2 linked regions of the Homo sapiens genome follow. The protein of the gene in region 1 interacts with the protein of each later gene in a pairwise test. Each region holds a gene or a part of one and is shown on either strand. Other genes may lie near its edges.

Region 1 (16,822 bases):
GTAAGTTCCGATAATCCACCCCTTTCACTAATTAATCATCTTTCCCTCTTCAAGTAAAGATAAACGTCACAGAACTACTTACTGTATAGTCTGATGACTGAGATCTAAGCCCCTTGGAAAGAGCAGGAGGCTTTCCTGTAGCTGCAGGAGTCTGATTGAAGTTCAAAGCCATTATTTCTTCCAGTGACTTTAATGTTTCCTCTTCCTCATCACTGTCTAGGTTGTAACCTAAACTTTCTTCATCACTATCAAAATCACCCCTTAGTTTTCTTTTCAGTGCACTGCTACCTGCATTGGAATTTCCTGAACTCTCTCCTTCTGAAGGGGCTTTATCTGAAGGTGCTGCAGGGCTTGGGATACATGGCACAACTTCCAAAGCAGCAGGGGGAGACTTTGTAGGAGTGCCATATTCTGAGCGCAAAGGTCCCCCAGAAATTTTCCCTGAAGATACATTAGAATCGGCCTTATTAGTCTTTGCTTTGTGTTCCTTGTGTTTGGTGGATTCTGTAGAATGCCCAGAACATTCTTTAGATGAGGAACGCTCTTTATCTTTTTTAGAAACTGGAAGAGCACAATTTTTAGCATTTAATGGTACTAGAGAGGAACCAGCACTTGGAACACGGGAAAGTAAAGGTAGTTTTGTCTCCTTCTCCTTTGTCGTGGAGCTAGCGGTTTTATTTTTCTGAAGGTTGCTAGCTTTTTTAATTGCAGACTTTTCCTGAGATAAAGGTAAGTGGGGTTTCTGCATCTTAGTCTCCTTGGTACCTGCCACTTGGATTTGGTCACTATTCCTGGTAGAATGGTGGCCAGAATTGCCAGAATTTGAAGGTGCCAAGCCTGCAGAAGAGCCATCAGTTTCATCACTCGGTTCCTTGGATATATCTTCTAAGCGCAACACATCACCAGGTGTCTTCAGTGCAATATGTTTTATAAATTTTTCTTTCTGATGTGGTCCATCAGGACGCTTCTCAAGGAAGGACTCTCTTGCTTTTGGTATCATAGATTCTCTTGTGCTTTTCAGATCTGAGTCCACAGAGTTCCTTTTTCTTTTTTCAGGGAATTTATTCTGCTTAGAGCCTGCTAAAATTTAATTTTTGTTAGATTAGTGAAAAATATACTTTCCAACTTTAGTAAAGTTTATTCAGTGTCTAGAACACCCTAATGAAAGGTTTAAAATTCTAAGTATTAAGGCTGAGATTAGTCACCATATATGGAATGCAGAAAAAGAGTTACTTATCAACTGGATAAATACTGGTGTCCAAGAAATTTAAAGCTAATGACAAATGCTCATTTTCATTCCAAAGCTATGAAAAGTTTACCACCTTAACAGAATTAAAGATGCCACTCCCTAAAACAAACAACTGCATATTTGTACCAAGTTAAGGATGCCATAGGTACTTCTGGAAATTCTTTTAGACCTAGGACTACCTGGTTGCAGAAATGTAACACTTCTACATTTAAATGTATAGTACCTTAAAACACGTATAGGATAAACACTTGAAGGCAGATAAATGTTAATTTCTCATTAAAAAAAAAAAAATCACGCTGTGTCCCAATGCAGTATGACTGGTGTACTTACAAAAGGTGTCTTTGTCTTTGGAGACAAAGACAGACATGCACAGAGGGAATACAAGGTGAAAATACACAAGGAAAAGATGCTATGTGACTGGAGTGATGCAGCTGTAAGTCAAGAAATGCCAAAGATTGCAGGCAAACACCAGAAGCTAGACGAGGTAAGGAAGTATTCTCCCCTAGAGTTGCCAGAGACATTACGGCCCTATTGATATCCTGATTTCAAACTTCTAGCTTCCAGAACTGTGAAACAATAATTCCTGTTGTTTTAAGCCACCCTGGTTTTGGCACTTTGTTATGGCAGCCCTAGGAAACTAATATAAGCTATATTTATTATAGCCCCATCCAGAAGTACTTTAATAACCACATACATTTGAATGAACCAGTTTTTAAAAATTCATATTGTGGGCTGAGTGCGGTGGGTCACACCTGTAATCCCAGCATTTTGGGAGGCCGGAGTGGGCAGATCACTTGAGGTCAGGAGTTTGAGACCAGCCTGGCCAACATGGTGAAACCCTGTCTCTACTGAAAATACAAAAATTAGCCAGGCATGGTGGTGCGTGCCTGTACTCCCAGCTACTTGGGAGGCCAAGACAGGAGAATCGCTTGAACCTGGGAGGTGGTGGTTGCACTGAGCCAAGACGGCACCACTGCACGCCAGTCTGGGCAACAGAGCAAGACTCCGTTTCAAAAAAAAAAAAAAAAATTCACTTTAACCTGGTGCAGTGGTGTGTGCCTATATAGTCCCAGCTACTCAGGAGGCTGAGGTGGGAAGATAACTTGAGCCCAGGAGTTCAAGACCAGCCTAGGTACCAAAGCAAGACTTCAACTCAAAAAAACAAAACAACAACAAAAAAAAACACAAAAAATTCACTATTTGTGCAATCAGTATTCCCCAAACCAGATTTCCCTAAATCAAATTTTCTGCACATGGACAGATGTCTCCATTCCCCAAGAGTTGCTTTAAAAACCTAAAATGGCTGGGCACAGTGGCTCATGCCTGTAATACCACAACTTTGGGAGGCCAAGGTGGGAGTTCGTGAGCTCAGGTGAAACCCTGCCTCTGCGAAAAGTACAACCCCGTCAATCCCTTCTCTAGTTAGAAAATTTCTTATCTTTTGGCCATGTCTAGTGGCTCATGCCTGTAATCCCAGCACTTTGGGAGGATCACTTGGGCTCAGGAGTTTGAGACCAGCCTAGGCAACATGGTGAAATAGTCTCTACAAAAAATACAAAAATTAGCCGGGTGCAGTGGCATGTGCCTGTAGTCCCACCTACTTGGAGGCTCAGGTGGGAGGACTGCTTGAGCCCCGTGAGGCTACAGTGAGCTGTAATTGTGCCATTGCACTCCAGCCTGGGCACCAGAGTAAGACCTTGAATCAAAATGAGTAAATAAAATAAAATAAACCCGCCAAAACCAAACTTGAGAGGCAATTATTATTTGGATAGCTTGATCAATATATAATCTGAAAAATTCAATTTATAAAAATTAAATTAACTAATTAACAAATGCCCTTATCTCTGCTCTTTTACAGATATCTCCCATTACCTGAGGAAATCATTCCATCCTATTCAGTTTTCTGGGGTTAAATGTCTTACAAAAAGGACAGGGGTAACAGGATGAGAAATTAAATGACTAAACAAAAGAGAAGATTTGGCTCATTATCTTACTTTTAAGTATGGGATTACAAAAAATGAGCTACAGAGCTGCCAGTTTGAGTTTTGTTCCATTTTTCTAGAGAAGTCAGATAATTTAAATATAGCTAGAAATGAGGAGAAATTCCTGCTTTGCTCAGGCATTATTCAGGGTTGATCCAGGAGGAGACAAACACTGTTTGTGGAAGATGTTTAGGATAAGTCAGCTTATTAAGGGGTTTCATCATCTAGAATTAGAGAAAAGTGAATTGGTACTGCAGGTAGGATCCCCTTTAGCAAGCTCTTCAGGTCAGGTGATTAATTGCAAAATGTTCATAATTCTTTTTGTATCCTTTGTCAGCCTGTAGAGAATATTTGTTTTACAGTTTTTCAAATATTTCAAATATACTAATACATAAAATATTCATATAAGAGAGAGATTGAGTTTGTAAAAAGAAAAAAAGGAGGCTGGGCATGGTGGCTCACGCCCGTAATCCCAGCACTTTGGGAGGCTGAGGCAGGAGGATTGCTTCAGCCCAGGAGTTCAGTGCTGCAAGTGAGCTACAATCTCACCACTGCACTCCAGCCTAGGAGACAGTGAGACTCCATCTCAAGAAAAAGGAAAAATCCAAAGGCCATTAATAGGTGATTGGTTATTAATCAGTTACGAAATGTACTAGCAATGGATTAAATTTCCCCTCACAATTCAGCCAAAAGACAGGGCTCTAGAAGACCAAAGGGCTAAATGCCTAGTCTAACATTACTTCTGAAATCCCTGAACTTGTATGTGATTAATGATTGCGTGATTATGTACATTACCATGACAATTGATTAAGTGTATTAACAAGATGAACAAGACATATCATTTGGATTTTTATTTTTATTTATTTATTTTTTTCGAGATTGAGTCCTGCTCTGACACCCAGGCTGGAGTGCAGTGGCACCATCTCAGCTCACTGCAACCTCCACCTTCCAGGTTCAAGCAATTTTCCTGCCTTGGCCTCCTGAGTAGCTGGGATTACAGGCTTGGGCACCATGCCCAGCTAATTTTTGTAATTTTAGTAGAGACGAGGTCTCACCATGTTGGCCAGGCTGGTCTCGAACTCCTGACCTCAGGTGATCCATCTGCCTTGGCCTCCCAAAGTGCTGGGATTACAGGCATGAACCACTGCGCCTGGCTTAGATTTTTAATAATTTTGCTATCAGACACAATAAGCATTCTTCATGCTATCTAGATTGAAATATCCCCTTGTCCTTTACATGTTGAAATTCTGTTGATGTTAGTCAATTGAAGTATAAATGTATATTTATTAAGAGTATAATGCTATAATTATTAGTGATTATGAAACACATGCAAAAATATTGGTAATAAAAATATAAGTGACGGCAACCATCATAAGTCAGCCTCTGAAAATATGTAGAAAGCATCTTTTCCAAGCAGTACTCAAAAACTTTGCTAGGTGGGATTATATAAATGAAACTACTTTAGCCACCATGAATGAAATTTGCAAATCCAGGAAATGAAAAGATTTTTTCAAATCTTAAGTCAGAGAAAAAAGAAAAGGAATAATGTGGTAGCCACACCACCAGCAGCAGCCCCTTATATAAAATAATATTTTGTTCTTCCATTAACTTTGGTGCAAGGTGATCATGTATTTAGTATTAAAAATGTGCAATACAGTGAGTGCAGAAGCAATCTCCTGGCTGAGAAATTCCTGTTCTTCTACAATAATGTCAAAATTCACTAAAATTTGGTCATAAAATCAGCAACATTATAAAAATTAAATAAACAAAAAACACACAAAACTTTAGATTTATTCCTGTATCCTAGAAGTTCCTTCTATAATGGTAAAATATGGTTTCAGCCTTGGCTGAAGATTGATTTTACCAGTTGAGAGTTCTTGGTCAAAATGCAATGCACCTCTAAAATATAAATAAAATGAAGTAGATGAAACCTGAAGGAGGAATTAGAACTGACTCTCTGTACTTTGGCTTTTCCATCTCTAAAAGTAAACCACTATCATATAAAGTTATGAGGTTCAAACGAATTAGAAGCACATAAAATGGCATAGCACACAGTAAGTACTCAATGAAAGCCAGCTATTATTATCGTGTCCAATGTATCTTACTGAATGTGGGAATTTGTTTTTCAAAATGTATAGTCACATCAGGAAAAAAATCGGATACACTAGACTATTAACTGTTGTTAGTTGTGGAGACCTTTCATTTCTTGTTGCAAACTTCTGCAGTGTTTGCCTTTTTAATCTTCTATTTTCTAGTTTTAAAAAAAGATAAAATGTACTGAATTAACAGATTTGTTATTTTATATTTTTTTCAATCAATAAATGCTAAAAGTACAAACTAATGTCATGTAGATATCCTTGAAATTTAATATTAAAAAGGGATCCTTGGATTTGAAATATTAGAGAACACTGCTTTTTATCATGGTAACAGTCTCAACCCTATACAAAGCATCTTCAACATAATACCAACAACTCAGTCTACAATTCCAAGATAATAAGATTATGTTTCCTGGGGGCCCGGTGCAGTGGCTCATGCCTGTAATCCCAGCACTTTGGGAGGCCGAGGTGGGCAGATCACGAGGTCAGGAGATCGAGACCATCCTGGCTAACGTGGTGAAACCCCGTCTCCACTAAAAATACAAAAAATTAGTCGGGCATGGTGGTGGGCGCCTGTAGTCCCAGATATTTGGGAGGCTGAGGCAGGAGAATGGTGTGAACCCGGGAGGCGGAGCTTGCAATGAGCCAAATTACACCACTGCACTCCAGCCTGGGCGACAGAGCGAGACTCTGTCTCAAAAAAAAAAAAAAAAAAAAAAAAAAAAAGATTATGTTTCCTGATGTAGCCAAGGATTCAGAAGGAAACACTGAATACCAGTATGAGAAACATACTGTTAGGAACTCCTGAAGAGGGCAGAGATTCAAGACAGATTACAAATTATATGCACTAGGTCAGGTGTGGTGGCTCATGAGCTCAGGAGTTTGAGACCAGCCTGGGCAACGTGGCGAAACCTCGTCTCTACAAAAATACAAGAAATTAACCAGGCATAGTTGCCCACATCTGTAGTCCCAGCTACTCAGGAAGCTGAGGTGGGAGAATCATTCGAGGCCAGGAGGTCAAGGCTTGCAGTTGAGTCGTGATCATGCCACTGCATCCCAGCCTGGGTGACAGAGTAAGACCCTGTCTCAAAAACAAACCCAAATTATAAGTACTAGATTCAGGGACTAGTCTTTTTTAATATGATCTTACCAAACTCTTAATTAATATGAGACACTTAATTCATCCCCAAGAAGGGAACTGCATATTTAAACAAATTTATTTTAAAAAGCAGTGCCATTAAAATGGAAATTTATTTAGAAATCCATAAATTTAATTTTGATTCTACCTGAAGTAGGTTCCCATGAATCAGAAGAGGATCTTTTTCTTGAGAGATGTCCATTTTCCTATGAGCACAATGAGATAAAATTAATTAAGTGTTGGGGACAGTAAAGAATGTGAAGGCATTCTTCCTAACATTTAAACACAGATTTCTAGATTGAATAAGGCAAGCACCCATATTTGGAGGTAAATCCTAATGTCTATAATAAAATATTTAAAGATCTTAAGGTTTTTGTCATAAAAATTAAGGGCATTTGTATCATAAACATGTAAAAATATCATAAAAATGAAGTCAGTTTTCAAAATGCTGATTTACGTTTATATCAATAATTCAAGAATATTATATTAGAACACTGTATTTTTGAGACAAGGTCTCGCTCTGTCACCCAGGCTGGAGTGCAATGGTGTGATCAAACTCACTGCAACCTTGATCTCCTGGGCTCAAGCGAGCCTCCCACCTTAGCCTCCTAAGTAGCTAGGAGAACAGGCACATGCCACCATGACTGGTTATTTATTTATTTATTTATTTGTAGTAGAGCCAAGGTCTCGATATGTGGCTCTGGCTGGTCTCAAACTCCTGAGCTCAAGCAATCCTTCCACCTAGGCCTCCCAAAGTACAGGAAGCAGGAGGATCGCTTGAGGCCAGGGGTTCAAGGCCAGCCTGGGCAGTATAGGGAGACCTGTCTCTACAAAAAAATACAAAAATTAGTCAAATATGGTGGCAGGTACCTGGAGTCTCGACTACTTGGGAAGCTGAGGTGAGAGCATCATTTGAGCCCAGGAGTTTGAGACTGCAATGAGACATGATCACGCCATAGCACTCCAGCATGAGCAACAGAGCAAGACTGTCTACACATAAATAAGTAAGACTATACTTGCCTTAAAAAAAAAGAATGCTTACTTTTCTGACTAAAAAAGATCTTTGTTCCCAGTCTGAAAAAACTAAGGATAAGAAACACTGCTTTACTGAGTTCGATGAAGGGCAACTGGAGGAAATGTAATGAAACCAGCTTCTACACAAACTGTGCATAAGTATTTCCTTCAGGAAAGACGTCAATGTGATGTAACAACTCTTAAATATTTTTAAATTTAGTATTCTAAATATGACATAGCAGTAGCAATGCTAATTCAATAATTCTTACACATACCACATTTGACAGATTATTTTTTCCAGGTATGATGTCATTCTGTTTCCTTTGTTCCTGCCTTGGTTTATATTTTCTTTCTATACTAGATTTTAAGGAAAGACTGCTTGCTTCTGAGAAAGAATTCTCGGAGTTGATTCTCTGCTCCATTTGCTCCTTTCTCAACCTCTTTAGTTCTCGTTCTCTGCAGTAAGAAGCTAGTGACAACTGGAATTTAGCTCCCAGTGGGCTTTCTTCCGGGTGGTGCCTGGACAGGCTGCTCCTGCTGCTAAGGCTTCTGGAGCTGTTATTGAAGATGTCAGCTTCTGCCACTGTGGTCTGCTTTTTGGAGTCTGCATTGGTTTTGCCTCGATCTCTATCATTCTTCTCATTATTTTCATGAATGAATAGTGACTTCCTTCTCTCTGGGGATCGATGTTTTTTCTTTAGTGACTTCATCTCCTTTGGCAAGTGATATGAAGAAGGAACATAGATATTTGTTCCTTTGGCTAAATATTTGGAGGCTAGTGACAGACAAGGCCGACGTGACTCATGTATACCATGATCTTCATGGTGCTCTTTAACACCTTTCATGAAAGCTTCTATAATAGGGCTCTTTTCTGGTGGCACCCTTTTGGGTTTAGATTCTTTTGGTGAGGATAGTTTCCTTTCAAACTGCTCTGTCCCAGTGATAGACAATCTACTTCCTCCATATTTGATGTTTGATTTTTGTGGTGAATCCAACATGTGTCTGTCTAAATAGCCAATTAAAACACATACAAATTGCATGTTAGTAAAATATTTAATATTTATCTAAATTATTAATGTTTAAAATATAAATTAAACTATACTAATGTTACCACAAAAATTTTCAAACCAACAACTTGGATAATGATACACACTTTATTGGGGGGTATAGGAGAAATTAAGAGATGATTTATTTGTTAAAAGCCTTAGTTTCATAAAGCTCTCTTTTGGTACATCATATAACCTCCCTATGGCTCTATAAATTACTGTATTAGAGAATCAAAATAGTATGTATTATGAACATTAAATTTTTTACTAGAATAATATTTTAAATGTAAGAAAACATAACAGCAAAAAGACTTTCATATTTAGAACTTCAGTTTATCCTTGTAAAACAAAATACTGCATCTTCATTTTATTTTCAATTTTGAACACTACGTTTACTAAAACAGTTTAGAGTAGGTTTTAAAGTTGAATCTGTCTCTCTCCTCACCCCCAAAATAGCCCACAAAAAATGCATCAACAGTGTACATACCTTGTTTTGAAGCTGGTTTGAAGAAATCTATAATTGACTGCTTCCTGAAAATAAAAGCATAATATGGCATCATATAAGCAAATATTAAAACCTTCATAACTCAGATTAAATGGAGAAAGATTTATAAAATAAAGGCTGGATTTCACTATTTGGTTTAATAAAGTTCTGACAATGGTAACAATGCTTTGCTAAACTGTTCATTAAAAAAACAGAAAATATAACGTATCACTTCCTATAGGAGTTCATTTATAAAAATACAACTGAGGTTTATATTATTTATAGTACTTAAATAGGTCAGACTGGTGTGTAGACCCAAGGAATTAGTACAGAGTGCTTCTTAAGACTGAAATGTTCACGGCTACATGGTAGAATGCAACATCTTGGGTATCAGCATATGAACCTACTTGTTCTCTGCAGACATTGATACAAAATAATTACTTGGTATCTAAGCACAGCTGCGTTTTAAAATTTAGAATAACAAGCTAAAAAAAAACTCAATAGATGTATGCCAAATGAATAATGGGGATTATAAAAATGGAGTAAAACTTGAACAGACTCTCATAACAAGAGTAGAACAGTAGATGGTAGAATGGCAATACAGGTGATTTGGCTGATCTAGGGAATCAGTTGAAGAGGAGTTTGCTGGACAAGGGCAGAAAAGAAAAATACCAAACTTATGCTACCCTCTTTATACATTAAGATGTTAATCTAAGTAACAGCAGAAATTAGAATGAGTTGTCACAACTAGTTTCAAATTCTTAATTTTTTATCAAAGAATCCTTAAGATAGTTACAAAAATAACACATTGCTTGGGAAAAACACAAGGAGAAAAGGAAGAAAGTTAACAAGAATAACAAAAACCAAATTAATTTTTAAGAATTTCTGTACCGTAAAGACTGGATTTCATTATCTGGCTTAACTAATCAAGTTCTGACATTGGCAATAATGCTAAAGTGAAATAGGAATCCATTACCAGAATTCGTATTCTGATTTGTTCACTGTAGAGTTGTCAGCTGCAAAAAAGGGGATGTTATGATATGCTGAACAAAAAATTAACTTTCTGGTAAATTTTGCTAAAATGTATCATTTTACTGAAAGAGAATAAGCTATAGACTATTGATTTCCCTAAACATTCATCCACTATGAGGTTGGAATGCTCAGTGAAAATTCCAACAATCCAAGTTTCTTGAAGGTTAAGCTTCTTGTACACTTTACTGGTCACATTAGAAGAGCAATGCACATCTTTACTGGTTTACCAAGTCCATCACGCTTGTTTGAGATGCTGGTATAAAAGCTAAGTGCTTATGAGATGAATATGAGTGACGGGCTATGGAAGAATATATGCATTTGTTTACATAAATTATACTAGGCAAATTAACTCCACCAGAGTAAATGTTGGAGGTTCTGCAAAGGGAAGAAGGATGATACCTTGTTATTGATCTTGTTATTGATTGAGGAGAGATGGGAAGGGACCCAGAAGCAGCTCATTTGTTGCACACAAGATAATTCTAAATGCATTTTACTAAATGTAACACTGTATCTCTTCCCTAAAATATTGGACCTCAGACTCCTTTTTGATTAATACACCAGAAAGAGAAAAAATGATTTTGGGTAAAACATACAAGAAACCTGTAAAATAACCATGAATGTAACTTTCAAGAGGTAGGTTCTCTAAGTTCATATGCACACAAAATGTCCACTGCTTATTTAACAACTGGCTTAAAAAAAAACACACACACACACACAATTATAACAGTTTCACAAACCCTTATCTGAACCTTCTGGGGCCAAATGTGTTTTAGAATTCTGAATTTATCAGATTTTAGGAAGGGGATAACTTGGATGTATTATGGAAAGTCCCCAGTGGGGTCTGGTGCTGCAACCTGTAATCAAATCCACTGACATTTCTCCAGCAAAACATGAATATTCACACTTAATGGGATAAAGACCACAAACAGCCTTACATTAGTTTTAGTCAGATCTGGCTGCCCAGTAAGATGTGGTGCCAAACTTACTGAAAACGTTTTGGTTTTCATAGCTTTCTGGCTTTCAGAGTTAAGATAAGGGATTGTGGGCCTGTACCACAGTATTAGTAACATGAATATTGTTAAAACTTAATACAATTTAACTTAAAATAAAAGACAGTACCAAGTTCGTAGGGAATTTAAACATGTTTTATTGTCAGAGGATGTCATTAGATGAAACTCCCCATCTCATTACATAGCTCCCACAAAATCTTTACAAAAAAATTAGCCTCTTGGAGAGGCGTGAAGTTACTGAAAGAGAAAACACGTCACATTCCAAATCTGCAAGTTCTTTTAAGTATGAACTAGCGTGCACGCTGGACTACAAAGTAATTCGTGGAAGGGATTCCCTCATCACAGGTTACATAATTTCACCCACAACATAGAAAAGGTTTATATTACTAAACCACTAGGATCAGTAGAACTGACAACGTACAGAAAACGATCTAAATATGCATTAAGCAGTTAGGGTCCCGGGTCAAACTCTTGCAAAGGAAAAAAATCACTTTCTTTCTACCTAAGGCGGGTTCTCCGTAGCTGTCCAGGCTGGTGGTCACTAGACCAAGAGCAGCTGCCCAACTACAGAGAAGCAAACTCCAACTCCCAGTAGCCCCTGCGCGGAGGCGGGGCGGGGATTTGCCAGGCCCCGAAATGCCAACGCCTGAGCTCGCGGAGGATGGCGGGAACTGGAAGAGCGGCGGTCTGCAGCCCTCCCCTCATACCCTTGCCCCCGCGACCCGGCCCCTTCTCAAGCCCTCTGCACGGTACCTGTCCCCAGGACTCTCTGTTCTCTTTCCCGCTGCAGCATGGGCGGTACTACCGGGTCTCAGATGGCAGCGCGGGGGCGACGACCCCGGGGCTGGGGATGAGGGGAAACCTGGCCTAGCGGGCATGCAGCGCCTTGTCATGTCGGCGCCGCTGGCGACGGCGGCATGAGCCGTGGCTGGAGAAGTTGGGTGCGTGGTTGCCGTCTTGCTGCTGGGACTCCGGGAGGCTGTCGGAGCAGAGGTGGGCGGCACCCCCTTCTCTCTTCATGGCGGTTCTCTCTTCGGAAGTGACTCCGGCGTGAGCGGGAAGGAACCTGGGGACCAGTAAGGGGCGGGTCTTACTTCATGAATCACGTCTTGATTGGCTGGCACGGTGGTCATTTCGGTGGTGGCGCAATAGGAAGCCGCAGCCTCTCTGGAGAAGGCGGGGCTTGGGGACGGGGGAGGAAGAAACCTCCCCCTCCCACCCCGTCACATGCACTGAGGGCGCGCGCCTCTGGTCCCGGCCGCCTCGGCCTTGGCCGGCGCGCGGGGGCGGAAAGGCGCGGGCAGCAGCTGGCGGACAGCTGACGACACCCGCCTGGTTGAAGGCGAGGGGTGAGGGTTTGCTGAAGCAAACCGGAGCCCGGCAGCTGCCTTCGTTGAGGATGGCCAACACTTGGGCTTCCTGTGTCACACAATTGTGCCTCAGAAATCCGCAGCTGTTCATTACATCGTCTCTTTAACAGCTTAGGCCAAAGTGCCATAATACTGTCACAATTTGCTGAGGGATCTGCACAGCGCGATCCGAAGACTTGTCCATTCTACGACGGTTCTTGTTGAGTGTCAGCGGTAGATTATTTTTTTGTCTTTAAGAAGAAGAAAAAACCCCCAAAAAACTCCATTGGAATAAAGACAGTTGTTAATCCACAAAAGCATTTTGTTTCTCATGAGTTACCATGAAGTCTCTGCAGCCGACTTCCTTGGAGATTTTTTAAAGGAACACAAGGTCAGCTTTCAGTTTTCCATGTTAAGCGTGGGCAGCATAGATAAGTAAAAGCTGCCTGCAATCTCCAACCCTCCTTTGTAAAGGGCTTGTGCTCTGGAGGCTGTTAGCCATGGTTTTCCTTATAAACCGAGAGACTGGTCAGTATCTCTGAACCTCAGCCTCCACATCTGTAAAACGGGCATTTTACTCACTTTTCTGGGTAATTGTAAACCATAAAAGGATAAAACAGTGTACACTGCACAGTTCAGATTCTCTCATGTAACAGGTACAGAGCAAATTATAGTTCCCTTTCTTCCCCAGATAGATTCCTACAGCGAATTTTACTTCTTTACAAAATCTTCCAGAGACAGGTCAAATACTGTTGCAATAACTGTTAACAACCAAAATATCAATTTCAAGATGTCCAAGCTTTAATTGACAGAGTTATTTAATCAGTTGGATGGAAAAAAATCTTAAATGATATAAAATAATTTGGACGGGTCTTTCAAGTTTATTGTATAGAAATTGAACTATTGGCCTGATACAGTTGCTCACATCTATAATCCCAGCAGTTTGGGAGGCCAAGGCAGGTGGATAGCTTGAGCCCGGGAGTTGGAGACTAGCCTGGGCAACATAGCAAGACCCTGTCTCAAAAATAAATTAATTAATTAAAATTTAGAAAAAACGAAATTGAACTGTTCTGGTCACTAAGCATGCCTGACTGACTCCAAGTTCACCTCCTTTTCCCTTCCCCTTTAGTCCCCGGGAGGAAGAATTAATAAGGAATAAAGTGGACAAAAAGCTGGCAAAGTAGAGGGTCGAAGGTAAACAGTGAATATACAGGTTTCACATTCACCCCAAAAGCACATATGTACAGCTGTATACTAGCTAATGGTGGCGGAAGAAGGGAAGTGCCAAAATAGAGGGTACTTTTCTGCTCCTAATAGCGGAGAATTTACTATACGTAACATTGTTTTTTACATAAAAAAACATGATACTCAAAATGTGTTGAATGACTTACACATTTGCATTTTACATGTATTATTTCCTATCTCTTAGTGCTTTCTGTTGGATGTTTTTACACTAGGAAGTTTCTGTACTATAACAGAGCACATCTACGAAACATTTAATCCGATTCATTTCCTTGCATGCCTAATCGATAAAGAGTAATGCATAAAAACACGTTCTGCATGATCATTTAGTTGCTTTTCTTGGATTATAGTACTTGAATCATCCAGCCTCCAAAGTATCACTTTAAAGCCTGTACTCAAACTACCAAACAATAGTTTTCTCATTTTCTTAATCTGAGTAACAGATTATGGAGTTAAGTGAGGCAAGAAATCCCTCGATCAATAAATGGAGATGGAGTCATAATGAAAACACAATTTTAAAAATATCTTCTTAACGGGAAGTAGTTATCTAAATCCTCAATAAGCATCAAGACTCTTCTTTGTTTAAGCTGTGTACGAAAGTGGTACAGATTTGGGTTGCAGGGTGAAATATGTTCAACATATTAATAAGAACCCCAGGGGAACTTCTAGGGCCTAGGGCTCTTCTCCACCTCCCACCCCCAAATAGTACTGGACAGTCTATTTTGTGTTTATATCCTTTCTCCTAGTTTAAATGTGTACGTATATACCATGCATGCGTGTGCACGCACACATGTTTATTGTAAGGGTTTTTTACACTTCAATTTGTAGTGGGCTAAAAGGAGATGACCAGGAAACTACACTAGGTAAAAGATTTAAGGAGTTCAGATGCGTGCTTAGGAGGAGCTAATAGGGGAGAGAAAACTAGGATGGCAGGGGGGTTACTGGGGGGAAAGGACATTGAACAATGTAACCAAACCCAGTTAGAGACTTAAGACAAAACTTAGCTGGGATTTGGAAGAAAAGAGAAATTAAGGCTGGATGACCATAAAAGGCTAGTTTGGGAAGATTTCTGGGCATGGGGATGGGATGAGGATGCAAAGATTGAAGAAATGGAGTGGCTTCTTTGCACAAAGCTTCTGTGGGGGTGCAGCTCAGCTCAGTTTAGCACCCTGCCTTGTTAAAGACAACAGGAGGAGGGGGCTCTGGCCTTGATGAGAAGGAATGGGACAGCAGCAGAAACAATGTTACATGAACAACAGATCAAGTTTGCTGGGAAAATCAAGCCCAACGTGGGAGTTCCTGAGAGGAGTGACAGTATAACTCATGCCAGAGATCTTAAGCAGTCACACAGAGAGAAAACAGCTTGGGCAGATTGGTTCACACAGTACCTTAAGCAGGCAGGGACTGAGAACAAAAGGTCAGTAAGTGACAGAGAATGTTACCAAAAAGCAAAGAACTCTAAAAGTAATTTCTGATTGTACCCAGTAATAAATTTTTGCTCTGAAATTGCCACACATTTAATTAACTCCAAGGCTCTTGTTGGAAGGTGTTCTAGGGCAGGCCAAGAGACAAAGACTGATTTTCTGTAGAACTGCTGGGGGGAGGTGAAGGTGAGGGTAGAGGGTGGCCTGGGAAGGGGGATAAGGAACAGACTCAGAAAAACAGGAAATAATTAACTTGAAAGCCTGACAGAGAAAGACAGACCACGTGATGATCTCAAGAAGGGATGGCAAGCTCACAGCATCTCAAGATCCACACAAATCACTGTGCAAAAGGATGCCAAACTCGAAACTGCCCAAGTGCTTGGAAAAAGGACCTCCCAGGTTTAAGCGGCTGCTGGGGAAAAGCCAAATGTAAACTAATATCATGTCATGTAACCTAACGTTCTGGGAGTAATTAGTAGAGCTGCGCAAAAGCAGATCTAATGTGAAGGAACGTCCATTTCTTGTTCTATCATGATAGAATGGTGCCAGATAGTTTCCCACACTTCAGATACATGAGACACGTATTTGTGATTTTCAACATGTCTGAATATTTCCTATGCTGTTTATTAATGTTTTTCCTTAAATTGCTTTTTAAATTTAAGTACATTTATTTTAGGAGAAAACTTTAAATCATTCCCGTAAGTGGAAAATCAGTATCAATTTCCTAAAATGGAAGATAACTAAAAACTAATACTAGTAAAAATATATAACTAGTTTAAAAATATAAATATATCCAAGTTTCTTCTAGAGTTATCTTGTTTACCAGTGGTGGTGGTAGGCATTGATAGGCGTAGATATTACTCGTACATCTGAAATATAAGAAACTCTTGGGGAAATATTGATTTTAGGGATTCTATCCCATATTTAGGTGTTTTTCACACCCGGTTAGCAGCTCCTTAGAGGATTTTGAAATTGATGTAATGGGTTACAGACCATGTTTTTAAAAAAGAAAAAGACAATGGAATAGAGAATGTCTGTTCACTGCACACAACATATGGGCATGTGTTGTTTTGCAACTTTTTACTTCTTCAATTGTATATATATTTTATATGGTAGTGATGTAAAAGGTATTCCTGTGGCCCCTGCTTTGGGCCATGGTCGAAATATTTAAAAGTCATTGCTGTAATCTGTGTTCATATTTCATACTTGTGTGTATTGGTGGCACTGAACAGCCAAGGCTGGAGTGCAGTGGTGCAATCATGGCTCATTATAGTCTCAACCTCCCGGGCTCTGGTGATTCTCCCACCTTAGCCTCTCGAGTAGCTGGGACTACAGGCACATGCCGCCATGTCTGGCTAATTTTAAAAATTTTGTAGAGACGGGGTCTTGCTATATTGCCCAGGCTGATCTTGAATTCCTGGGCTCAAGCCATCCTCCATCCTCGCCTTCCCAAAGTGCTGGGATTACAGGCATGAGCTGCTGCACCCGGCCAAGAGTTGTTTAAAGACACGGAGCAACATTTAAAAACCAAAAGATTTCACACAAAATTCTAGATTTCTGGCTTCAAGTGGTACAAAGAGTGGTCTCGCACTTATGCTTACAGGGGCTAGGTAGGTAACTGAAGTGAGTGAATCAGGTCGATTTTCCTAACTTTTATAAAGCCTTGGGATTAAAGAAATATTTCTTAACAACAGCAATGACAATGGCCAACGCTTACTGAACCTTATTATGGGCCAGAGACTGTTCTAAGCACTTC
Region 2 (16,031 bases), about 94 Mb from region 1:
GAAAAGAAAGGCAGGTTAGAGAAGGGGCAGTGTGCACTGGGGTACACAGATGCGTCACAGCAGGCTCCAGTCCGGGGCCAAACATGACAACAGGATGCTCTTGTTTCATTCAATTCAGGGGATTGTTGGTAGAGATACCAGCCCGGCTTGATGACTGTCTAATCTTTGTGTTACTAAAATCTTTTTGTAGCCGGGCACAGTGGCTCACGCCTATAATTCCAGCACTTTGGAAGGCTGAGGCTGGAGGATCGCTTGAGACCAGGAGTTTGAGACAAGTCTGGGTAACACGGTGAGATACGGTCTCTACAAAAAATTTAAAAATTAGCTGGGCATGGTGGTGCAAACCTGTGATGCCAGCTACTCAGAGGCTGAGGTGGGAGGATCACCTGAACCCAGGAGTTTGAGGTTGCAGTGAGCTGTGATCATACCACTGCCCTCCAGCCTGGGCAACACAGCAGGAGACTCTCTAAACAACAACAAAAAACAACAATACAAATACAAGAGCTTTTGGCTAAGGGCACTCTGGCTACTCTGAAACTCACATACCTACCCTGGTGGGTAGAAAGAGCTGGAACAGGTGGGTTGCTGCGGGAATTGCTTCCCAAGCTTATCGCCCCTTGCTGGGAGGGCAAGTCACTCTCCACCCCAGGCAGGGCCAGGTCCTCCCTAAGTGATGCTGAGACTTCATCTGAGCACTAAGCAAAGGAATCTCTACTAAAAGACAAGGCTCCCTCAGCTCCCTGCCAAGGTCTGGCATTTCACCATTAGGATGGGTGAGAAGATGCTCAAGACAGATATGCCAACGACAGCACAGGTTTCCATAAAGGGAAACACACACACACACACACACACACACACACACACACACACACACACCATTTACAGACACACACTCCCCAGAGCGAGGTGTCGCTCGTACACAGATCTGTTGCCCCACTGTGTCCTGCCTCAGCCTTTCTCTACCTACACACAGGGCATGAAGACATTCATTCAATGAATGTTCAGTTGAATTTGCTGCAGGAGGAAGCATACAAAGACCCACTCCAAAGCTCTAAGACCCTTCCACTGGACATCTCTGTCTCTTCAGCAGCTTGCTTCCTATAGTAATCTGGTTCATTCACATAGATGTCATTTGACCGGACTGCTGACTTTAACCGCAATCCTCCCTCCTATTTACCAAGATGATCTCAATCGTCCAGAGGGAGTCACTGAGGGGTCTGAGAGATTGCAGGCCCCAGGCAATGATGATCAGTGGTACCGTGAGAGCATTAAGTGAGCTCTACATACTGGAATTTCTGCCACTTGCAGAAGAATTATACCCAGGGCTGCCATAAGCCACAAGGACATTAATAGCCAAGCAAAAGCACAAGATCATACGTCTCCGACAACACCTGTCAGTGACTTTCGCACAGGCAGCTTATTTTCTTAAACTAACGGTTTATTTAGCTGTCTTGAAAATATCTAAAGCAAAAAGGCAAAGTGTGTATAAATGGTAGCCTTGAGCAGACTAATCTTCTAAGCAAGCATAGATTCATCATCTGATCAGATTCAAAAGACTAATGTTAAGAGCAGGAATAATTTATCTTCAGATCAGATTCAAAAGCAACAATATTCCCTAATAAGTACTGTAGCAATAAAAATGCAACATTAACTTTAAAAGTATCAATGTGAGTGTCATTTTTTATTTTTAAATTACAGATGAGCACTAGCTATGATGTAAGCAACTCGAAGCCACGTTCAACCAAGACCAAAGGTGACCTTATCAAATCACAAAGTAAACAGATCTGTCTTGTATACACACTGAAAGCAGGAGACAAACTGTAGAAAACTGTCACTATATTTTCATGCTATGTTTATATCATTTTTCCCTTGCTCTATAGTGCTCATACATGTTATTTTACTTTCTTTTCAGATGCTACAGAAAAGGCTGATTGCAGCTGGGGGGATTTGGGAGTACTGTGAAATAAGTGTTTGGCTCTAGGTCGCGAAGAAACCAAGGGGACCTCTGGCCTGGGGCCTGTAGGCCAATTCCACTTTCAGAGCCAAATCCACATGTAATACATCAAATTACACCAAGAGGGCATGGGTGTAGGGACTCAAAGTCTTCCAGGTACCATGGGCCTCATAAAAACACATTTTAAGTAGGCAGAGGGCTGATGTTCTATTCTGTTCTGTTCTGTGGATGTCATTAAACCATGGACAGTTGGCTTAACCATTATGTTCAATGACATCCATAGAACAGGAAAGAATAGAAATAGAACTTATTTTACTTTCCCAGGAAGTTTACTTTCCTGGTGAAAATTAATGCCCAGAAAAGCTAGCCAATCTAACTATGATCACATAGCTAGTTAGAGAAAGTGTTGGCATGAGAACTGTAGTTTTCTGACATTAAACTTTGAAGGGAAAACTGTAGCTCAGTCTTTAACATCTGTACTTGGGCATGATGGTGATTCAATCACCACTGACTATCAGCACGAAAATATTCGTGTAACTCTTTCTTTACAGAAAATTTCAGTGAAGGTGGCCAATGCATGTACCACATTTCAGTGCAGATGCACACACTCATGTATTTACTTGCCAATATTTATTGAGCATCTACTAAGTGGCAGGCACTTGGCTGGCCTCTGGGGAATGTCACAGTGAACAAAGGAAAGGTTCCCTCTCTGGACATCCCATGAATCTGGAGGGTGGCAGACAAGTAAACAGACTATTAGGATACAGGGATATTAACATATGGATGCAGAGCTAAGGGCTCAAACAGGACAGGCAACCAAGCCAGTCTTATAGGGGTGCTGAAAGGGCTTCGAACTGAGACTTCAGGGACCAGTAAGAATTATTAAGGCCAAGAGGGACTGAAAGAACACAGCTAGTTCCCTGGAACATAGAATTCCAGGAAACTGGGGAGACACCAAAGGTAAAATCATGACGAGCCCAGAAAGCCACTTTATCTGGAAGACTATTTTTTCTTTCAAGGATTATTTAGGTAACAGCATACCTCACAGGTGGTTTGATTTTTATAAACATGTTCCTATAGAACTGAGAGCTGCCGGCAGATCACTTTTAATGTTAAACACAGAACTACCATCAATGGACTAATTGTAAAGAAATGAAATATGATAAGATATACGACATGCTTAGCACAGGGCAAAATTAAATCGATTTTGATAGAGCACTCGGGTGAGGATCTGGTAGTTCCTAATGGAGGTATTGAGATCTAGAGAAGTAGAGAAAGGACAGCTTAATCTGGACTAAACCTATAAACTATCCTGAAATTTTTTCATTAAGGTCAGTTGAGCATTTGAGCAGTCTGCTTATTGCGCTGTCTCTGACTGATGAAAGCTGAATACATAGGTAAAATTTTATTTAGAGTGTTGTATGTGCTTAGTTATAGATGAGTGGATTTTTACTGTGTAATGTACAGGTTTGCAGCATGAGATTATGGAGTATAGATTTTTTAAGCGGTTGCCATAACATTTCAGAAATAAAAGGCACAGACGCTGGTCATGGGGAGTTCAGAATTTTTGCAAATTATAATAATCTCTGCATTTATAACGTTCAGGGCCTGCGTGCACATAGCGATGACCATGCTGTGCACTGTGATCTCATTCGCATGCCAGTGAAGAAAGTCTCTGGGTTCCTTCTAGCTCACCTGTAATCTCAGACAATGCCTGCGGTGACCTACCGGAGGCCTCACCAACTCAGAGCTGGAGTATTTGGGCTAAATGACGATGAACCAATTAGTAAAAATTAGTAATTAAAGGTCTGATGGGACAGAAAAGGACTCAAGTGCCCATGTACTTCAGACAGCCCAGTGGGCAATGGCTTTTTATTCCAACAGGTGAACTTGCCTAATGTGAAATGTGAAATTACACAGGAATGAGATGATGATCAATGAAAGTCTATCTATTTTTCTCTCTCGTAAGAGAAACAAGTAGGGATGAAAGGCAAGGCTTTTACTAATATTAGAAGAGCAATAGGGCAGAACTCTGTCTAGTACAAAAATTAGCCAGGCATGGTGGCGGGTGCCTGTAATTCCAGCTACTCAGGAGGCTGAGGCAGGAGAATCGCTTGAACCCGGGAGGCGGAGGTTGCAGTGAGCCGAGATCGCGCCATTGCACTCTAGCCTGGGTTACAAGAGTAAAACTCCATCTCAAAAAAAAAAAAGAGCAACTTGATTCTACAAGGGGGACAGTGTCGGCAGTGTTCCATTTCCTAGAAGGCTTAGCTTAGGGAAGGCATGAAACTTTTCTCTGGTGTTATCAACTGGGCTTAGGAATATAAGAAAGGAAGACTCAATACTTTAGGCTTTTCCCCATACCAGCTTTGTTTCACTTTCTTGCTTATTACTGAGAACTTGTACACAGTGTAGACAGACACAGGAGCTATTGACGTTTCAAGGTATAAGCCCTCATACCTAACCTGGGATCTAGAAATGAGAAATCTGCTCTTCATTCAGGCCTAACTAAATTTTTTTTTATTGTGAAAACTAAGCATTTGAGCCTAAAAATAAAACCAAAACATTAGAGTAATACAGAATGCCACACCTTGTATCTTTAGCTATCAGAAGGCACCTCGCAGGGACTGAATCGGTGTATGTTGAATGCACACAGGGACTGACAGATACGCATCAGTGCAACCAAACCTGCGTGATCAGCGCAACCAAACATGCATGACCAGCGCTTGTCACGTATTTGAATACAACGCTTATCTCGCCGCAGCACCACTGTCAATAAATGCCAGACAGGCAACGTGCTGTGCTGGGCAGCGCTTTACACAGCATTTCAACCTATTGCTTTAATTTTGTTTTCAAAATGGAGATGTGGCTTATCAATAAGCCCCCGATCACCTAAGCCCTTGTATTTCTTACAATTGTCTTTCTTTCCTGTTTGTGTGTTATTTAAAGGGACAAGCTCATCACCCAGGTTCTTTAGGTCTAAGGAAGTCTCTCCCTGGTTGCTTTTCAGAGTTGTCCAGACAGGAAGGGTGGCCAGTGTGAGAAGGTGAGGAGGTGACTCCCTCTGCCTCCAATCATTCTTTTTTCTTTCTTTCTTTTTGCTTGTTTTTGAGATGGAGTCTTACTCTGTTGCCCAGGCTGGAGTGCAGTGACACGATCTCGGCTCACTGCTACCTCTCCCTCCCAGGTTCAAGCAATTCTCTTGCCTCAGCCTCCCAAGTAGCTGGGATTACAGGCACCCACCACCACGCCCAGCTAATTTTTTTTTTTTCTTCAGTAGAGACAGGGTTTTGCCACGTTGGCCAGGCTGGTCTCGAACTCCTGACCTCAAGTGATCTGCCTGTCTCGGCCTCCCAAAGTGTTAGGATTACAGGCATAAGCCGCCATGGCCGGCCTAATCATTCTTTCAGCATGAACTTAGTGGGTGTCTGCAGAAGGTTCTAGTGGTTGTCAATAGGATGAACTACTTCATCTCTTGGACTTCTCGGGACACAGGGGAAAGAACTACTCTCTTTGGGTGGCACTGGAGACCATTTTAATTTGCTTTTTCCAGTTCATTGCTGCATGAACTTGGGAGAAAAGCTGGGAAATTTTCTGGGTACACAGGAAGTCACAGACCTTTTATGTTTCCTGATTTAATGCTGGAAATATCCTCTTTCTAGACTACTGATTTATATGATCTAAAAAGAGACTGAATAAACCTATCTTTAACATTATATGAAAAACAGTACTTTTTTTTTAACATGAGGTCTTTGAACACAGATATTTACACCAGGACAACGCAAGAAACTTCAACAAATTAAGCACAGAGTACAGCAAGAGCCTGGCATTTTCTGCAAGGCCAGTGAGGCAGGATGCAAGGTGGTGTGTGTGCAGAGTGGCAACTTGTTTCCGTATTAATTTAAGGGATAATGTAAATAAAAACCCTCTCTTCTTCCTTAGGACACAGCATCATATGATCTTGTGTTTTAGCTAACTATACTCATTTCATCTGCTGGACTATAGGCTCCTTTAAGGTAGAAATTATATCGACTGTTATTGCATTTGTCCATCACCATACCATGGTCTTAAAAATATTTTATGCAGAAAGAAGTGAGGAAGGTAAGAAAACAATGACGAAAGCAGCATTCAGTACGACACACCAGCCAGCGGGCTTCTGCTCTGGGCAGGCCAGGTGGATACACTGTTCCCTCCTTCTCCCACTAGGCCTAAGTAAGATCCATGGGCATTATATACAAATTCACAAACAGAAGACTCTGGAAGGTGGAGAAAGGAGGGCAGACCGGCTAGGGGCCTGGGCCCCCAGCTGACAGCACAGTGCTGAGCTCTCTGGTTGTTGTGGTTGCTGTTTGTGTGTGAGCTTCATGCCCCTGAGACTTGGAGCTGAAGAAGCTGCAACCCAGATTTGCCAAAAGGCACTGACAGGAGGCTCAACCAAAACCAGTTCTCTCCAGACAAAGGCCTGGCCAAGGGGTGGCCCAGCAAGACAAAAAACCGTGAGACAGCAGCATCTCTTCTGCAGCTGAACATCACAGGGAGGGCTGGACGGACCCCACTGAGAGCAGCCAAGGCAGAGTGTGCTATCCTGACTTCCGGCCTGGCCAGGTGGCAACTGGGCACCCCATCCCACCACTGACCTGGCATCTGAAAGGGCCAGCCAGGGAACTGGGACTCTCACCCCTGCCTGGTGGTAAAGAGCCCCCACTGTAGAGTCGGTGGAGATGGCAGGGGGAGCGTGGACTCGCACCCCTCACCTGGCAGCAACAGGCACCTCCCACCCCTGCTGGGTGGTGTCACTAGAGCCTGGAAGAGTCACCCCTCCGCCCCCCACCATGGCACTGGTGGGGCCTGAGAGGAGCAGGAATGAGGCTCTGTCTCTCGTCCCTGCCAGGCAGCTCTCAGCAGGGGCCTTGGAGGGAGAAGGGTCTCGCACACCTGCCGAGCAGCGCCGAAGAACCCCCTCGCAGGTGTCACGAGGAAGCCGGCTAGGACACGAGGTTCATTTCAGATGCAGAGTCTCAGCACATCAAACAATCGACACGCGGCAACCACCGTACCTGCTCCTGAAATATCTTGGCCAAGGGGGCACAGTCTGTCAGCTTAATGAACCTCACCACGTCGGTGACCGTCCACTCCAACGGGTTGCTCTCCAGAACCAGTCTCTCCTCCTCCTCCTGTTTCGTGTCCTGCAGAGAAAGGGCAGGAGGAGCTCAGCTGCGGCACAGTCAGCTGGCTGGGTCCTCTCCAGCACTCTCCAGGCCTCGGCCGTTCCTGGCCGGAAGCCACTGCCTCCCTTTGCTCCCTCACTGGGCACCTGAAAAAGCTGCACACACTCTCAGTCCCTGAGAAAGTTCTTGGCTCAGTGATGATGCCCCCTGCAATGACTCATGTGCCTTCAGATGGAAGAAGGCAGGCACAGTGACAGTCGCTCTTGCATCCCTAGTTCAGGAAACCTTGGGCCTGCTTATGAACGAAGCATCTCTGATTAGAGAAAAGAGGAGAAATACAAGGGGCACGTCCAAGCAGACACGAGACAGTGTCCCCCAGTGTTTCTGTAATGGTGGTGCCAGTGGCCCTTTCTGCTGATCTCACACCACCCATGGGGCTAGGGGAGACCTGAAACACTGATTAAATATTTTAAAACATCACAGAGGTGTCCTATAGAGGGGACGTGGGAGCAAGACACAGCGCAGTCAGGGGAGATGCGGGGAAGGAATTTCTGGAAACCCAGACTTCAAAGGAAACTGAGGACTGTGCCCTCCTCCTGACAAGAACCCAGGTGGCACTAAAGCCGTCCAGGAAAGAGGCGCTGTCTCCACCCTGGGCACTCCATTCTGATGCCGAAAGGCCCCTCCACCCAGAGGTGAAGTGCCAGCCTTTGTTCCTGACTTGGGAACTAGCTAGAGCAGCTGCTGCTGTTGGAGGTATTTTAAACAGGTTTCCCCACATCGTGGCCCTGAAGTGTAACAGGTGTGCTTCTTCAGACCCAGCGGGAAGCCCTCTGTCCCCACGCCCGGGCATCACCTCTGTCCCCTCGGGCTTGGTCGGCGGGCACTTCTCCCCTTCCTCTGCTGAGGAGGCAGCCGGCGCCCCGCGGCCCCTTCGTGTCCTCTCTGGGGGTGGCCGGCGCACGGGCTCTGAGCCGCTCCGCAGGGTGACGGCCCTCCGGGGCCGGGCCGAGGGCACCTCCGCCGACGAGGTGTCCGTCTGGTCATCCCGGAGCTCGGAGCCGGTCTCCTCACTGGCGGTGTCATCGTCCATGGCGTCAGCGTCCTCCTCTTCACTTTCCTGGGAAGGAGGAAAAGGCATTTAAGGGGCTGGTGGCCCGGGGGCCTGTAGCGGTGGCCCCGCGGTCAGACCCTGGGCCCAGTGCAGACCACCTAGCAAACCCTCGGAAATGGAGCCAGTGGTCCCACCCGTGGGCCCTACGAGGCCCTTCCCAGCCAAAGCAGCTGGACACACTACATTTGTTTTCAGCAAGTAAGGAGGAGGGGGCTCTTCTTCAGTGTTTCTGACCATCTTGCCACAATCTCCAGGGCCACCTCTGCTGTGAAGCAGCCACACTTGCCGGCCAGGGCCAGATGACAGAGCTACAGGCTGGCAGGTGCCCCGGGCAGAACATACCTCCCCCGAGCCCGCGGTGAAGTCCACGGCAGAAGACCTCCGTTTCTTCTGCACGAAAATGGATTTCCGTCGCTTCCTCCGCCTGGCGGGTTTGGGGTGTCCGCTGTCGGGGTTGCTTTCCCCGATGGGGGGCTTGGAGATCTTCTTTCTCTTTCCATAGTAATAGGCTGTAGGAAGGAAGATGAGAAACTTTTGAAGGCTATACACACACACAGACATGAACAGAGAGAGGAGAGAGAAAGAAGGGAAACGATTCTTTCATCTGATAGTTCATTTGTGCCTTACGAAGTCATTCTGAGAAAACAGACCCACAGGAGAAGCACTGCTCCAAAGCTTCAGGTCTGGAAGGTGTTCGGGCTGAACTTGGCCCGTCCCCAGTGTTGAAGCCCAAACCCCCAAAGTGAGTGTATCTGGATGTCCCGAACCCCCAAAGTGAGTGTACAAGGGTGGGGCCCTAATCCAATAGGACATTAATGAGGTCCTAAGAGTGTCCAGGAGAGACACCAAGGACCCAAGACCCAAAGGAGAGGCCCCATGAGGACACAGGGTGCAGGTGGCTGCCTGAGGCCCAGGAAGGATCTCATCAGAAACCAAAGCTGCTGACACCCTGATCTTGGACTTCCAGCTTCCAGGACTGTGGGAGGTAAGTGTGCGCAGTGAAAGCTCAGGGTCTGTGGTATGTTGTTGTAAGCCAGAGCTGACTTCTGCAGAAGGTGAAAGAGACAAAGGTGTCCACAGTTCCCACGGGAGTTTATCCCTGTCTGGACCCCAGACACTGCATACAGTGGTGGCAATGACATCCACCGGAGTGCTCTGACACCTGCTCCCAAGTCTGAATCTTGAGCGACTGGTCAGTCAGCAAGCACTGGGTGAACATCTGCTGGCGTGGTCCTGGCATGAGGGACTCCCCCAGCTCTTGGTCCGACCAAGATAAGCTATGATCCTGAACACGTGGGCCAAATTCACCAAGCACTTTTCCTCTTCTCAGAGTTCCTTCTCTATTACATCATTGTATACTTTATTTCCTTCTCATTTGCTGGGACTCACATTGCTTCTGAATTCTACAGCAGAGACACAGGTGTACATCTTAATTCAAAAATTATTTATTGAACTTTAGTAGTGATTAATGTTTTTTATAAACAAAATGTATCATCAGCTAATGAAAACCACCACTAAGGATCCAGCATTCAATTACGACCCAGACGCCTACTCATTAATAAAAGGTTCAACCGTCCCACTATGTGATGCCCATGAGCCACAAAATAACTGAATGCAGCCAAGGAACCTTTATCTACGAATGGGGTGGGCCAAAGCAAAATGGCAAATGCACCACCCCTGGTTTGCAGCAGCCCCGTTGCAGGGAGCATGATTTTAGTGCATTCTCACAGTACTGAGTCGTGGGCTTTGTCCTACAGGTAAGTCACCTATCCTTTCTGCACCCCAATTTCCTTACTTACAAAATGAGACCATCAGGACTAACAAGCATAGGTTTCCTTCAGGCCTAAGACCCTCTATGTCCCACCTCCTCCCCTGCGTTTGATCACAGCATGGCATTTGGAAAAACTGTCGGGAAGCCGCACAGCAGCAGCCCTGTAACTCCCAGGAGGCACACCTGCTCCGGGAGCCCCGGCCTGTTCTCATCAATCTCTCAAAAGGAGCAGCTGGCAGGAGAGCTTGGAACAATGTCCCGTGTCCAGTTCTATAAGGACCGTGTTACTCAGTGAGCAGGAATAAACTGCCGTGGGCGAGCATTGCTCTGTGGCCATCTCCAGGTACGGGGCAAATGAGCAAGCCTCTGTCCCCTCCCAAACCCCAAGCGTGCATGACAGGGCCAGGGCAGGCTGGCTTCTTAGAAGCCAGTGGCTGGGGATGAGAACTGGTTTTAGGGAATGCAGCCAAAGGCCAGTATGTGTTTGGAGCCTTAGAACGAGACTGGGTGACCCCTGCTTTTCCAGTGTTTGACTCCCCCAAAATATCATTCTGTCCTCCTCCCACTGGAGCCTCTGTTCAGCCTTTAGTAACATTCATTATAAATTAACCCAAAGGATCTTGGGACTTAAGAGTTTTATTATATGAGATCCGGAGACATCTCTGAGTTCATTTCGGCAATGCTGAATGGGAGGTGTGGGACCCTGCTCCTTCCCTGCCATTCCCAGTGTCCTGGAAGAACACAGAAGCCCACCTGGCAGGTAAGCATTCACCGTACACGGCAAAGGCGAGCCCTCGGTTAGGCCTTTCTTACTCAGGAGCTGCTGTTTCCCAGTGAAGCCCTCCCCTGGAAAAAGGTGCAGTGATGGAGAAACAAGCTCTTCCGGAACCAGGTGACCTGCTGGGCCAACACACCTGCGGGCCCTACCTGAGAGGCCCTGTGCACAGAATGAGGGGAGGTCTGTGTGATCAGTGAGGGCACAGCTGGCCTCCATCAGAAGGCAGAGTGGCAAGGGGACTCTGTGTGTGTGTGTGTGTTGTGTGTGTGTAGAAACACACTGAGAGATAATAAAATACAAAGAAAGTCACACTCTGCACAGCGTTTCCAGTACATTCAGATTCCTGGTTCCAGCACCCATGTTGACAAACGTCACAAGTGACTGTGGCTCACAGAGCACTGGCCACATGGCCAAGCCCTTGTCACATCCCAGCTGGCTGGAACGTGGCTGGCAGAGCTAACTTCCAGGTCACTCCCCCTTGCATTAGAGAGAACTGAGGGGAGACGCAGGAAACTCAGAACTGTGGGTCAGAGGGAGAGAACAGGACTCAGGCACAGGAGGTGGAGGTGTCTGGGAGTGGCTACTATGGATGGAGAAGGTCATCAGAAAGAAAGAAGGGCAGGGCTCAGGGGAAGCGGTTGCCCAAGGCCAGACATCCTCGAATGGGACTGGGGATGGAAGAGGCAAGAGCTGAAGGTAGGAGAGTGGGGACAGCTCTGAGTCCTGCACCCTGTGTCCTGGGAGAGAGGCAAAGCCAACTGGCAGAAAAGAAAGTGATGGTGGCTTCTGAGTCCTCCATGGCTCTCTTCAGTGAGGGTGCTGAGGAAGGCGTCTAAACATGAGAAGCCGATTATGACAAGGATGTGGCCCCCGTATCAAGAAGGGCAATGAAAGCATCATTACACTATCCCAGAGTAAGGACTGAAAGAGTCATCTGGGTTACTGTTACTGTGATCAATTTTACTGTGCTCTCCTGCCATCCATTGAGCTGTAGAATCAATCAATCCACTGAAACTCATGACAGTACACACAGTTCCTCTTCTTCTTTTCCAAGGCCTACCAATGAAAATTCATCCTGTTTTAAATCATCCCATCCCCTCCGTATGTCAGGCTAAAAACACATGTATCTGCTACAGCAAATCCTTAAAAATCCTTCCATAGCAATTCCTATGGAAGACTAGTCAAAAGGTTCAAAAAGAAAAAAGCAAATGAAACAAAAACCAAATACCTTAGAGTGCAGTTTAGGTCTCTGGGCTCATGCATTTCTTTTTTCATTATTTGTACTTACTGTATTTGGTTTTGGTATGAATGGAGCAGTTCTCTGGGCAGTTTTCAGATATCAGCACAGGACTAAACAAATTTGGACAGCACTCTAGCTTGGCACAGACTCGGCGGCAGAAATTTGCGACTTGGTCAGATGTCCGTACGATTTTGACCACAGCCCTGTATGTTTTGCCTCTGTATCTAGAAAATAGGTGGGGAAGAAAAGCGAGGGCAAGACCAGATTATGATTCAGGCCTATTCTGTACCACACATTCCGAAGGCAGCAACTTCATTTTCCAATGACAAAGCATATCGCGTGCAGTTTCCCATGTTGCTTCTGTTATTTCTCACAGAGATATTTATAAGAAGTGCTCACTAGTGTGCAACAAATGTGTCGTAACAGTGCTAAACCAGAATCCACTTCCATAAACACCCCCACATGTAGCACACCTTCATTTTGCTATATACAACTTCATACCAAAGATGAGCGGTGCGGGATACATACCTGATGGGCATGGCTCTCGAAATGAGGTTAGTGAAATCGAATGGGTATTTTCCTGTTGCTATCATATTTCATTTTTGAAAAATGTGAGTGCATATGGGATCAGGATTCTGCCTTGAAAACCATGCAAATTCAGAACACTGAAAGGATATCTTTGTCAAGACTGTGTATCATATTGTTGAAATGGGGACGATTTCCATTATTCATAAATGGCATCTGTGCAGAATGGTGATAGGTAAGCAAGGTCACATTTAAATGGACAGAAACACAATGGATTTTATAAGGGGAAAAAAAGAAAGAAAAAAGCTACCATTAAAAATGCAGAGTGACTGTATGATTGGGACCTGGAAACCGAGTGAAGACCCCCAGCCTTGCAGACACTGGCAGCAAGTGGCTTCAGTGTAAACAGAATCGTAAGGGGTCTCCGGTGGATGAGTGGCAGTTAAAGGAAAAGGCTGCTGTATCTCTCAAGTGTAAAGGGAGCAACGTGAAATGGTAATGCCGCTTGCCATACTCTGCCCATGAGGGTAACTGGCCACTCCTCTCCTCTAGGTTGGGATGGTGAAAGATTGCTCCAGGAACTAAAACTTGCTTCCACCTGCTCTCCAGTCCCCCCAGCAACCCCCTCCATGGCTTCGGTTGCTTTCTCCGAAGCAGTAAATCGAATCCTTTCTGAACATGCACACCTTCACCGCAATTCCCCACAGACTCAAATCTTGATTGAGTGATAGATAGTGGATGAAATCATACTGCAAGGAGAATGCACGCTGGAATCAACAGTACTTCATATGCATCTCTATTTCTTATTAGACTGAGGTCTTTGGAAAGCTACAGTCTATTTGTGTATTAGGAAAAAATAAAAGGCATTTCTCCAGTTAAATCTCCCCCCGCCCCCCGCAAAAAGCGGTAAATCTAACTGAGGGGCCTCACATAGGAGACCTTCATTCTTATTATATGGATTGAACCATGTCCCTCCTAAATTCATAGGTTGAAGCCATAACCCCCGATAGGACTGTAATTGAAGATGGGGCTTTCAATGAGGTAATTAAATTAAACGAGGTTATAAGGGTGGGGACCTAATCCCATAGGAGTGGCGGCCTTGTAAGAAGATGAAAAGTTTGAGTGTGGAGGTTCATCCTTGTCATCTCAGCTCTTTGGGAGGCCGAGGCAGGAGGACTGCTAGAGCCCAGAGGTTTAAGACCAGACTGAGCAGCATAGCGAGACCCCCATCTCTACAAAAAATTTAAAAACTATGGGCACGGTGGGGCACTACTGGGGAGGCTGAGAAGGCTGAGGCAGGAGGATTCCTTGAGCACAGGCGGTCAAGGCTGCAATAAGCTATGATTGTACCACTGTACTCCAGCCTGGGCGACACAGTGGGGCTCTGTCTCTTAAAAAAAAAAAGAAGAAGAAGAAGAAGAAGTTGAAAAGCCACCAGGGGTGTACATGCACAGAGACTAGACCATGTGAGGGCAGAGGGAGAAGGTGGCCATCCACAAGCCAAAAAGAGAAGCTTAAGGAGAAACCAACCCTGGCACCTTCATCTTGGACTTTAGGCCTCCAGAGCACTGAGAGAATAAACATCGTTGCAAAAGCCATGTGGCCTGTGGCTCTTTGCTGCACAGCCTGGGCTGACTGAGACAAGGCTCATTCCTCCGGTGGTGGGGGGTGACAAGAATGGGGACCCCCGGACTGCCTGCCTGCACCTCCCCACCACCCACACAGCAGCTTCTCCTGACCATGGCTGCTGCCTGCTTGTACCTTTCCTTCTCGGTTCACATCTTCTAAGGTTTCTCTGAGGTCCTCCTTAAGCACTTGTCTCTGATCTTAGAGGAAACACCAATCTAGATGAAGGGTATGGAAGTTTTCCCCAAAACCTTTTCAACGCACTAGGAAAACGAGAGTTCTGGAAATCCAAACGCCTTTTATAGTTATCCACAAGGAACTGATTTTATATATGGGAATCCAAAAACGTCAACAAACATTGCTTGAAGAGATGGCACTGTCTTGCCATCATATATAAATATCAAGTGCAATACTGCTTTCCTTAAACGTAACTATTTAGTGAAGAATAAAAATTAAGCTCCTCGCATCCCTCCCCACACCCACCCACACAACAAAGAATTTAGAGTGAGACATGCTTCTGGAACCTAGATATTGTCACTTGTTGCTCATCACTTTTAAGAAAAAAACTTTCTCCTGCCCCAAGAAAAACCGCAGGTAATGAATTCACCAGTGTAAAACTGGCAACCAGAGCTACAAAAAGCAGATTCGATGGGTTCTTGTTTTAAAATTAGGCACTACAGCCCTTATCCAAATATTTATGGGAATATGATATACATAATGCCTGGCTGAAAACACAAGCACTTGTAGGTTTCAATCACCTTTTGACAGATTTTTAACCCTATCATGGGGACAAAGTAATGGTCAGCTTCTCAACTGGCAACAGATCATAGGTTTTTATTTCGTTCACATATCACCAAACTACTGAAATATGAAATTCCAGCTTTTTAGGAATGTCTTTCTAAAGACTGGAAAAATACTTTTCCACTAATAAATCTTTTTTTTTTAAAGTATCAACGGCAAAAAAAATTAAGGATTAAATTCCAACTTGTACTTTTTATCTGCATACTCTACTAAATTTACTTCATATTTATTCAGGGTCTTTCATATCCCAGCCCCTGGGTGTTTGTTTTTCTTCAGTTTCTCTGATGGGTCGAGCTTGACTTTCCATGTAGTGAGAACTAGAAAGTAATCTTCTGTAGATAAGATCATGCTTTAAATCCTACAGCCTTGAATGGCTGTTGGTTTTTCTAGGCCCTCCATTGACCCTATGTGTAGAGACTTCCCTCTCCGTGCCTTTGAAGAGGGACTCCAGGACCCACGTTGGGGCGGTTCTTGCTTATTGCTTTTGTTGCATTTTCGAAAAAAAAAAAAAAAAAAAAAAAAACAAAAGAAACAGCACAACTGGGAACACCGTATGTTCCTCGTGTTGTGGGAAATGGAGAGTAAAAATGGGAAATGTAGAATAAAAGTGCTTCACGGCTACATTTTCCCTTGCAGTTTTATCCACTACGAGTTTGGTGGCCCCACAACTTTGTTGGAAAGAGCTCACTATCGAGATTCTTAGAGTCCCTAGAAAAATAAAATAATGAGACATAAGAACGCAGGAGAAATGTGCAAGCCAGGTCAGAGGACAAACTGCAGAACAAGGCTCAAAGATGAGACTGCTCATCAAACCTCCAGGTGACGAAGCACACACACGCGCTGCCACATCGGAGCGACGGATGAAGGGAGCGGTTATCTGGGGGAAACAGAACCAGGCTGGCTTAATTTTCTCTTCCTAGTTTGGGATGATTTCACGGAAACAAGTGTTTCAGTAAAAACTTTCACAATAGGGAAAAGCCCATCTAAAGGTATGAAGATTTAAGTTATAGCATCATTTAAAAACAGCGGGCTCCTTTTCTCTTCCCTGCCCTTC

What was found.
Region 2: the proteins of SLF2 (region 1) and SFMBT2 interact in binary tests that used the Homo sapiens proteins (3 or more experiments, as listed by UniProt).

Annotation. Positions count from the first base shown.
Region 1 is NC_000010.11:100,908,233-100,925,054, reverse strand, and holds the start of SLF2 (SMC5-SMC6 complex localization factor protein 2), read right to left. Parts: upstream 12,093-16,822; 5' UTR 11,945-12,092; coding exon 11,805-11,944; coding exon of another isoform or gene 11,753-11,804; exon of another isoform or gene 9,986-11,752; intron 9,057-9,985; coding exon 9,013-9,056; intron 8,486-9,012; coding exon 7,755-8,485; intron 6,672-7,754; coding exon 6,614-6,671; intron 1,081-6,613; coding exon 83-1,080; intron 1-82. UniProt on the Homo sapiens protein: Plays a role in the DNA damage response (DDR) pathway by regulating postreplication repair of UV-damaged DNA and genomic stability maintenance.
Region 2 is NC_000010.11:7,163,917-7,179,947, forward strand, and holds part of SFMBT2 (scm-like with four MBT domains protein 2), read right to left. Parts: intron 12,250-16,031; coding exon 12,074-12,249; intron 8,746-12,073; coding exon 8,579-8,745; intron 8,243-8,578; coding exon 7,979-8,242; intron 7,141-7,978; coding exon 7,012-7,140; intron 1-7,011.